3 linked regions of the Homo sapiens genome follow. The protein of the gene in region 1 purifies or fractionates together with the protein of each later gene. This does not show direct contact. Each region holds a gene or a part of one and is shown in the gene's direction. Other genes may lie near its edges.

Region 1 (3,428 bases):
CTTCAGTAGTGTCGAAAAATTACTTCATGCTCTAGGAGGAGATGACTTCCTTGGAATGCTTAATCGAACACTTCTTGAAACCTTGCAAAAGGCCGGCTTTTCTGAGAAGTTCCTCAATGAAATGATTGCTCCTGTTATGAGGGTCAATTATGGCCAAAGCACGGACATCAATGCCTTTGTGGGTAAGCCAGGGCTTGAAACAGTGGTGGACATTAGTTCACAGAGGGGCTTACCTGATGCTATGGTGGTTCCTGACTTTAGGCTGTGGATTGGAGGCTACTTTTCTCTGTGAACCTCAGACATTGTTAGCAAAATTGTGCGTATGTAGATGTGCATTTTTAGGGGGAGAGGGTCTTTAGCTTTCATTAGTTCAGTAATTCTTAACTGGGGGAGATTTTGCTCCCAGGGGCCATTTAGCAATGTCTAGAGACATTTGGAGTAGAACATGTAATTGGGAAGGGAGAGTGGGTAGAGAGCCTCTTACAAAAAGTCAGAATTAAAACACATTTTTCCTCCTATTGACAGGGGCGGTGTCACTGTCCTGTTCTGATTCTGGCCTTTGGGCAGTAGAAGGTGGCAATAAACTTGTTTGCTCAGGGCTTCTGCAGGCATCCAAAAGCAATCTTATATCTGGCTCAGTAATGTACATCGAGGAGAAAACAAAGACCAAGTACACAGGTAAGCTTGAATTTCTTATTGTTCCTGATATCCCCTGCAGAAAATGATTGCTCAGGGAGAAACACTTCTCTTCTGTCATCTCTTACTCAGTTCTAAAATGATGAAACTTGAAATTGTATATATTGTACCATATAGAAATATTCCCCAATGGGCCAGGCACGGTGGCTCATGCCTGTAATCCCTGTACTTTGGGAGGCCAAGGAGGGTGGATCACCTGAGGTCAGGAGATCAAGACTAGCCTGGCCAACATAGTTAAACCCTGTCTCTACTAAAAATACAAAAAATTAGCCGGGCGTGGTGGCAGGTGCCTGTAATCCCAGCTACTCGGGAGGCTGAGGCAGGAGAATCACATGAACCCAGGGGGCAGAGGTTGCAGTGAGCCAAGATCACACCACTGCACTCTAGCCTGGGTGACGGAGTGAGACTCCATCTAAAAAAAAAAAAAAAAAAAAAAAATTCCCCAGTGTAGTTAAGTGCTGTGGCATCACTCCTTGGATTTGAAAAATAATCTTTTTTTTTTTTGAGATGGAGTCTCGCTCTTTTGCCCAGGCCGGACTGTAGTGGCCTATCTCGGCTCACTGCAAGCTCCGCCTCCCGGGTTCACGCCATTCTCCTGCCTCAGCGTCCCGAGTAGCTGGGACTATAGGCGCCTGCCTCAGCGTCCCGAGTAGCTGGGACTATAGGCGCCTGCCACCGCGCTCGGCTAATTTTTTGTATTTTTAGTAGAGACGGGGTTTCACCATGTTAGCCAGGATGGTCTCGATCTCCTGACCTCGTGATCCACCCACCTCGGCCTCCCAAAGTGCTGAGATTACAGGTGTGAGCCACCATGCCCGGCCGAAAGATAATCTTACCTTCAAAAGTAAAAATTCTGTATTTTGTACTTACTGACATTCTGAATAAGAAATTGGCCTCAATGTAATAAAAATGCAAGGGACAACTATCTTAAGGGATATAACTTCTTCAATTCTTTAGAATTATAGAGAAATTATGAAGAAGGTATACAATTATTTTTAGAAGGTATGTTAGAAACACTAAACAAATATATGCCTCCTTATTTCCTCTAGGAAATCCAACAAAGATGTATGAAGTGGTCTACCAAATTGGAACTGAGACTCGTTCAGACTTCTATGACATCGTCTTGGTGGCCACTCCGTTGAATCGAAAAATGTCGAATATTACTTTTCTCAACTTTGATCCTCCAATTGAGGAATTCCATCAATATTATCAACATATAGTGACAACTTTAGTTAAGGGGGAATTGAATACATCTATCTTTAGCTCTAGACCCATAGATAAATTTGGCCTTAATACAGTTTTAACCACTGATAATTCAGATTTGTTCATTAACAGTATTGGGATTGTGCCCTCTGTGAGAGAAAAGGAAGATCCTGAGCCATCAACAGATGGAACATATGTTTGGAAGATCTTTTCCCAAGAAACTCTTACTAAAGCACAAATTTTAAAGCTCTTTCTGTCCTATGATTATGCTGTGAAGAAGCCATGGCTTGCATATCCTCACTATAAGCCCCCGGAGAAATGCCCCTCTATCATTCTCCATGATCGACTTTATTACCTCAATGGCATAGAGTGTGCAGCAAGTGCCATGGAGATGAGTGCCATTGCAGCCCACAACGCTGCACTCCTTGCCTATCACCGCTGGAACGGGCACACAGACATGATTGATCAGGATGGCTTATATGAGAAACTTAAAACTGAACTATGAAGTGACACACTCCTTTTTCCCCTCCTAGTTCCAAATGACTATCAGTGGCAAAAAAGAACAAAATCTGAGCAGAGATGATTTTGAACCAGATATTTTGCCATTATCATTGTTTAATAAAAGTAATCCCTGCTGGTCATAGGAAAACACACGGTTCTAATTAAGTGTGAAGGTATAGCTATTGCACTTATGCCATCTCCAAAATTTCTTAAGTATTCTTTCACTATCCATTAGGAGTTTTTCTTAAACTTGTCTGATAATAAGAATCACCTGGAGTTAGGAGGTGGTGGTTGCAGTGAGCCAATCTCACCATTGCACTTCAGCCTGAGCAACACGAGCAAAACTCCGTCTCAAAAGTAAATAAAAATAATCACCTGGAGTTTGTTAAACCATATGGATTCTCAAGCTCCTCTCTTGAAGATTCTGATTCAGTAGGTCTGGGAGTGGCGCGCTGGATTTTGATCAAAATTGTAGAGCATTTTAAGGTGAGTACCTGAGGGAGAACTTAAAGACATCTTAGTTGGGGAGTAGTCCTTTTGAATTTTACAGCTAGATATAATCTTCAGTCAGATAAAATTTATGGGAGCTGGTGTCTTATGCCTGACTCTTAGTAATTTCATACCGGTTTGAAGTACGTGTGCCCATGCCTAAAGCCTTGACTTTCAGAATGTTGTCTTTTGATTCTTCTGTCTTGATTTGATTAGGGGTGAAATTTAGAAGTCTTAGTAATGTAACTTGAAGATGTTAAACAAAAATCTCAAGTAAAATGAAAAGCAAATATGGGCTACTGAATTAAGAAACTGGCATTCTAGTATTAAATCCTCACTTCAGGAGCTTTTAAAAATACTGAGACCCCCCCATAACCAGAGATTCAGATTCAAAGACTGAGGATAGGACCTTAGCATTGTAGCTATTTAAAGTTTCTAATGTGCACCCAGGGTTGGGAATCACCAATGTGGGTGTGAAAATGCCTACAAAGGGTTTTAGTGCCTTAGAAGTCCTAAGAAGCCCAATCTGTATCAAAGCA
Region 2 (3,654 bases), on another chromosome or scaffold:
CCTTTTAGTGCTCTCTAGTCGCATTTCCAGCTCTCCCTCCTTCATATTTTTTGCTCATACTAGCCATGCTGAACCACTAGTACTTCCCTAAACACACCACATTGTTTTGCAGCTCTATGCCTTGGCCCCTACTCTCCCCTCTGAAATGCATTTCCCCTTCTAGATGAGACCACGGAACCTCACTTCCACTGTGAAGCCTGCTTCCACCCCACAGCCTCACCAGCTTCCACCCCACAGCCTAGCACTCCTGTGTGCCTGTTCTAGTCCTTTTACTTATGCTAACTGGTGCACATCTTGCTGTCTGTTCTAATAATCTGGTCTCCTTTCTGTCTTCTGCACAGTGAACTCTGAAGTACAAATCTAGGCTTTTCCCTCTCTGTTCCCAGACTCTAAAGGAAAGTACCTGGAGCACAGCAGCTGTTCAGTAAAGAATTGCTTGCCGGGCGCGGTGGCTCACGCCTGTAATCCCAGCACTTTGGGAGGCTGAGGTGGGTGGATCCTGAGGTCAGGAGATCGAGACCATCCTGGCTAACACGATGAAATCCCGTCTCTACTAAAAATACAAAAAATTAGCCGGGCATGGTGGCGGGCACCTGTAGTCCCAACTACTTGGGAGGCTGAGGCAGGAGAATGGCGTGAACCCGGGAGGCGGAGCTTGCAGTGAGCCGAGATTGCGCCACTGCACTCCAGCCTGGGCGACAGAGTGAGACTCCGTCTCAAAAAAAAAAAAAAAAGAATTGCTGAACTGGTTTGCCACTGGGCAGCTGGTGTCCCAGAGGACTCCATGGGGCATTCACATACATGCTCCAATGCAGGTTCCTGGCTGCCTGGCCCCTACTCTTCTTATCTCTGCCAATCCCTCAGGCTTTGGTCACTTTCTTTGTAGCTCTCACTTATTGAATGGCTAGCATGTGGCAGGCACTACGTATCATATTGCCTCATTGATTCTCATAACAACTCTATGGGTTGAATATGATTATTACTCCATTTAACAACTGAGGAAACTAAGGCCCAAAAACATCAAGTAATTTGCCCAGGGTCTTCAGCTAGAAAGTGACAAAGCCAAGTTGCCTGGATCTACCATTTCTGTTCTTTATTAAAATGGGAAGGTCACCAGAAGAGTAGAGTTTACACACACACATACACACACACACATGCACACGCATGCACACACGCGCACACACACTCACTCACCCTTTTAAGGACTCCCCTGCCTGGATAGTTTGCTGGACCTGGAAACACTGGATTCCATGTGTCTCCTACTACTTTTATCAGGGAGTCCCTCAAGCCAACATATGAGCCAACCCCGGAACAGACACACACCGGGCAGTGCTACCTGGCAGGGCCTGCTTCTGCCCCCACCCTGACACTTGGCTCTGTGATGATGGAGCCTGAGAGGCAGTCCTGATCCCACTGCCAGGGTCACCAGCCACAGATCCACTTCCATCATGTTCCTACCCTGACCTCCGTCCACACACCCTCCCTAACTAGTCCAGAAACCTTCTTCAGGAACTCTCTCAGGCACATGAGAACCTCCAGGAGGGCTCAGTCAGGACCTGAGCCAGCTGGACCAGGCCTCTTTCTGACACTGACACGGAGGAACAGGTGGTGGGTAAGCCGGGTGTCCTCCCCTAAGTTACGCTCAAGAGGAAGGGCTGTAACCTCACATGGCCTCTCAGCCTGGAATGTAGGTATGGTCATGTTCCTCCCATTTATATTTTTAGCGTGTACCTCCTTTGGGAGTAATGAGAGCCACACATTTGCTATTGGCTGTGTAAAGTCCCATTTCCTCTTTGCAAATGTCAAGTGTTATCTTAAGTTAGAGTTCATCCTGTCCTTGCCTTTTGCAATTACATAGTCTTTGTTGACTGAGAGCAATCCACAGTGACAGCCTAAATTATAATTCACATTGTACCTAATATAAATCAATCAGCATTCCAGCACACCTCTCGACAATTCAATTAAGTCAGAATTCATTGTGTGTTCGGCACTGTGACACTCATTAGTCACCAAGAACACAGCACAGGAGGGATCACACAGAAATCATCACTGTTTTTCTAATTTGCATCCTATCTTACTGGACCTAAGTCCTATTTACATAGGTTATCTCATTTAATTCATTCAACCAACATCTGAGATGAGTATTAAAAAAAAAGCTAAATACTTGTCAAAACGTTACAACAGATATGTCTATATATATGGGAGAACCAATCAAGAAGCAGATTTCAGGAGGACCTTTGGGGAAGGATTTTATACAGGACATGAGAAAGCAACATTAGAGGCTGGGCGCGGTGGCTCACACCTATAACCCCAGCACTTTGGGAGGCCGAGGCAGTTGGATTATGAGGTCAGGAGTTTGAGACCAGCCTGGCCAACATGGTGAAACCCCATCTCTATTAGAAAATACAAAAATTAGCCAGGGTGGTGGCAGGTGCCTATAATCCCAGCTACTCGGGAGGCTGAGGAAGGATAATTGCTTGAACCCGGGAGGTGGACATTGCAGTGAGCTGAGATCACACCGCTGTACTCCAGCCTGGGTGACAGAGCAAGACTTCGTCTCAGGGGGGCGGTGGGGTGGGGGAAGAAAGTGACATTAGGTTGTTTTGCAATATACAAGATTGGCTGTCTTCCCTTGATTCATTTATTCACTTCAATAATATTTATTGAAAACTTAGTATATACCAGGCACTGTTAAAAGGATTTGAAATATATCAGTGAACAGAACAGATGAAGGTCCCTCCCCTCATGCAATTTACATTCTAATGGGGGAGACAAAAAGCCATAGGCATAATGAATAAGTAAATTATATAATTTGTTAGAGGATAATCACTGCTAGTTTAAAAAAAAAAACCTAGAGTAGTGCAAGGGAGAAATGGTGGCAATTTTAAATAGGGTGGTCATGGAAATCCTTGTTAAGCAGATAACATTTGAGCAAAAACCTGAGAGAGATGACAGGTGAGGTCTGTGAATATCTGGGAAAAGCATATCAGACAGAGGAAAGAGCCAGTGCAAAGGCCCTGAGGTGGGGCCAGTGTGTTTGATGCACAGAAAGGAGGACAGTGGACCTGGAATGGAGAGAGGAAGGGGAGGGAATAGCAGGAGAGAAAGTTGGAGAGGTGACGAGGTAGCAAGATCATGTAGGGCCATAGCATATATTGTCTAGATACAGCCAAAAGGATTTTCTAAAGGGTTGGATATAGTATGTGAGAGAAAGAGAAGATCAAGGAAGACTCTAAGGCTTTTGGCCTGAGCAACTGGACAGGTGGTGCTGCTGTCAACTGAGACAAAGAAAGCTGCAGGTAGAGCTGCTTTCGGGGGACTAGGAAGTTCAGTGTTTGATGTTAGGTTTGCATCATCTGTGGACATTTGAATGGAGATGCTGCATAGGCAACTGGATATTTAAGTCTGAAATTCAGGAATGAGATCTGGGCCTGAGACATAAATTTGGGAGTTGGTTGTATGCAGATGATATTTAAAGCCATTGGATAGGATGAGCTCACCAAGTGAGTGAGTGTGGATGGAAGAGGGAATGGTTCAAGAGCGGAGCCCTGGGATACTTTAGTGGTGAGGAGTTGGAGAGGAAAGGAGGAAGCAGCAAAGGAGCTTGAAAAGGAACAATCATGAGATTGGGCAAGGAGTGTATGGCATCCTGGG
Region 3 (3,654 bases), on another chromosome or scaffold:
TGCTTATTTCCACACCTCCCTTTAATTGTTCTTTGGGACCAGTGGCCGTGATAGACACATTTGTGTTAGTAGCCCAAAGAAGTGGGTTCTTGTCTGTCCATTTTCTTCTTGGTGTTTGCTAGCACATCCTCCATAACCACGGGTGATCTGCAAGTGATCAAGTTCACTCTCTACAGGAAACTGTTTCTGGCAGTTTCTGATTTAACGGTCTGCTATTCTTTGCAGCGCCTCACTGTTTTAGAATCCCATGACATGCTTCGTAAATTCATCATATTTTTAAGAGACCAAGATCGATGCCGTGATGTATGTGAAAGTTTAGAAGGATGCCATACGCTTTGTCTAATGGGTAAGTATCCGTGGCTGGAACTTGATTGTGTCCTGGCCATCAGGGAAAGCCCGAGTGTTTTGCCTGTCACTATTCTAGAGATTTGGTTGTTTTCTGTAACAATTGGAAGTGCTTACAATAAAAAACACGTATTTAGATAGACAGTTAAAATAGACATGTAAATAAAAATCACATGGAAAATATTCCAGCCTGGCAAACTAGTTAAGTGACTGTTAATGAACATTAGATGTCAGCCTTTAGCTTCCTGGCAGTCAAGGAGAAAGTGAAAATGTGGTGAATTGCCTGGATAATTCCCATCTCAAGAGAGAAGGGAGGGAGTAGTTAGGTGGGGCTTATATCAGAGCAGCGCCTGCTTTACCTATTTTACAGTGTTTTCATTGTAGATGGAAGAAAGGGTTTATGAATAGAAGCATTTGAGGCAGAGGCACAGAATTCTCCTTGCCTAAATTTATTTTAGATAGGAAAAGTTTTTTTTGTTTTTTTTTTTTTGAAGACAGGGTCTCACTTTGTCACCCAGGCTGGACTGCAGTGGCACAGTCATGGCTCACTGCATCCTCTACCTCCTGGGCTTAGGTGATCCTCCCACCTCAGCCTCCTGAGTAGCTGGGACTACAAGCGCACACTACCACGGCCGACTAATTTTTGTATTTTTAGTGGAGACGGGGTTTTTCACCATGTTGCCCAGTCTAGTCTCCTTGGGCTCGAACAATCCACACGCCTCAGCCTGCGAGATTACAGACTTGAGATAAAAACTTCCCTGGGGCCAAATTTCATGAGGAGTTTCTGGTGCGAATGTTCACACGAGTGACGTTGACTAACTGGTGAACGTTGAATAACAGCGACTTCCCACGACACTCAGATACTCTTCAAAGACCATTTCTTATGTTAACCCTTGATTTTTAAGCATTAATATAATATTAAAATGTAACACTAACTAAATATCACCTACCTCTGTGTGCCTAACATTTTACCTGCCACTTCATCCTCATATGGAGAGTAGGGATCATCATTCCAATCTTACAAATGAAGAAACAAGTTTGAGACATGGGTTGACGGCCACGGCTCACCTTGTCTGTGGCATAGCCAGGATTTGAAGTCAGCTTGGCCCGTTTCTTACCTTTGCACCACACAGCAGCCTCCGGCATTGACAGGTGCCCCTTATGTGGAAATTTCTTGCTGCACATGGGATGTGGCCGCCTGAGCCACAGGCAGGGAGCAGGGCCGGGAGGCACCAAAATGTTTGTCTGGGCCCATCACACTCAGCCTTCTCTCTCTGTAGGCAACCTCCTACACTTGGGCTCCCTCAGCCCCAGAGTGTTAGAGGAGGAGACAGATGGGTTCGTGAGTTTGCTCACCCAGACGCTGTGCTACTGTCGGAAGTATGTGTCTCAGAAGAAGTCCAACCTGACCCACTGGCATCCTGTCCTTGGCTGGTTCTCCCAATCTGTGGATTATGGGTGAGTCCCAGATGCAAATCACTGTCTTTCCTGCCTCTCTCCCACCATCTTCTTCTTCCTTCTTTCTTTCTTCCAGCTTGTGGTGTTTTGTTTCTTATTATAAAAATAATATGTATTCATTATATATTAATAAATTGTGAGTAAGAACAAAAGAGGATAAAAACCAGCCCATTATCCTGTAAACCAAAGATAACTTGAGTGAACATCCTGTCAGTTTTCCTATCTAGAAATACTGATCCTTTTTTACAAAATTGAAATCCTATTATTTTGTATTTTGTTCCTTCCATTCAGCTATGGACCTTATCAATGTTTTTTCTTCTTCACTGTCACTTTTTGACTAGACTGCCATATTTTGGAGATGCTAAAACAAGACAAATGATTCAAAGGGAATAGAAATCACCCAAAATCCTTTTCAAGAGGTGGAATATAAATTTTTAAAAGTGTAATTATGAACTTAAAAACATGAGAAACACTAGACTAGAAGAAGGGAGATCAAGTAAGGTGCAGCTTCATGAATTTGAAATATCTACCTGAGCTGAGATAAAGTGGTTTCTGGAGAGGAACCAGCTCTGCTGCCCCAGCTGTTTTCTTGTTCACATATCTGCTCGAGGCATGGGGTCCCTGGCAGTTACCCTTGCAGCAGAAAACTAAAGGCCTGGGGAGGAAATCCCCAAATTTTTCTTTTGTTGTACCTGAGTGACATCCCTGGGTCCTATCTAGTTAAAAAGACTCATTGCTAGGGAACAGCCTGCCCCAGCGTGACACCTCAGCCTGAGGAGGATGGGGCGGAGGTGCTGAGAGTCAGGAGGCTGTGGGAGGTAAGTGAAGGAGAGCAGCACCTCCGCAGACAGCCTGCTCTCCGCTCCACTTCCTCTTCTTGGAGGGACTTGGACGACTTGCTTTGCCTTGCTTTCCTCATCTGAAACCTGGGGATAATTTTCACCCTCCCTTTGATAGGGCTTTCTAGAAAGATTGAATGAGATAATGCATGTGAAGCACCTACCAGCAGGCAGGCCTGGCCGTACTCAGGGGTGGCGGCTATTAACAATATGATGATCAATGTGGGAACCACTAGGAGTCTCACCTCACCTTCTTGAGCAGGAAGGTGACAGCAGATTCCAGGAAGTTGAGGGATGCTGAGTGCAGTGTGGAGTCAGGCAAGGAACCCCTGGAATGCAAGGAAACACTGAGGAGGCTGCTGAGTCATCTAGATTTGGCCCCCCACCACCTGCAAGCCAGCTATGAGGAGGGAGGCAGTGCAGTGGGTACAAGATTGTTTTTGTCACCTGGGTGGTAGCAAGTGTCTTCGAGAAGAGTGTGACTCATGGAGCTTGGGGACCTGGGGAAAGCAGACAAGATGAAGAGTCAATGCCCTTGACGTACCAGCCCCTCAGCAATGATTTGTTAGTTCCACTTTTTATTTTTGTAATCTTCTTTGCCATGTTGAGTGCCAGGTCCTAGCTACAGCTCCGAGTGGAAGGCCATTAGGAACTGTGTGGGCTGGCCCTGGCCCTGCATCAGATGGAACTGACAGACCAGGTCTCCTCTGCTCTCTCCTAGCCTTAACGAGTCAATGCACTTGATCACCAAACAGCTGCAGTTCTTGTGGGGGGTGCCTCTGATCCGGATCTTCTTCTGTGACATCCTGAGCAAGAAGCTACTGGAGAGCCAGGAGCCAGCCCACGCACAGCCAGCATCCCCTCAGAATGTGCTCCCAGTGAAGAGTGAGTGACGGGAGCAGGCCCAACCCTGTAGCTCCACTTGGCTGAAGTACAGCTCCTGTTTCTTCCTATATGGATGTTCCGCTGTGTTTGTGGGATGCTCTAACTTTGTTTTTGTTGTTATCGTTCT

What was found.
Region 2: the proteins of PCYOX1 (region 1) and POPDC2 purify together in Homo sapiens (co-immunoprecipitation; one large-scale study listed by IntAct). This does not show direct contact.
Region 3: the proteins of PCYOX1 (region 1) and UBE3B purify together in Homo sapiens (co-immunoprecipitation; one large-scale study listed by IntAct). This does not show direct contact.

What each region holds. Positions count from the first base shown.
Region 1 is NC_000002.12:70,274,989-70,278,416, forward strand, and holds part of PCYOX1 (prenylcysteine oxidase 1 precursor), read left to right. Parts: coding exon 1-182; intron 183-525; coding exon 526-678; intron 679-1,745; coding exon 1,746-2,404; 3' UTR 2,405-3,428. UniProt on the Homo sapiens protein: Prenylcysteine oxidase that cleaves the thioether bond of prenyl-L-cysteines, such as farnesylcysteine and geranylgeranylcysteine. Only active against free prenylcysteines and not prenylcysteine residues within prenylated proteins or peptides.
Region 2 is NC_000003.12:119,650,560-119,654,213, reverse strand, and holds part of POPDC2 (popeye domain-containing protein 2), read left to right. Parts: intron 1-3,654. UniProt on the Homo sapiens protein: Important for the maintenance of cardiac function.
Region 3 is NC_000012.12:109,498,008-109,501,661, forward strand, and holds part of UBE3B (ubiquitin-protein ligase E3B), read left to right. Parts: intron 1-225; coding exon 226-346; intron 347-1,625; coding exon 1,626-1,803; intron 1,804-3,363; coding exon 3,364-3,527; intron 3,528-3,654. UniProt on the Homo sapiens protein: E3 ubiquitin-protein ligase which accepts ubiquitin from an E2 ubiquitin-conjugating enzyme in the form of a thioester and then directly transfers the ubiquitin to targeted substrates.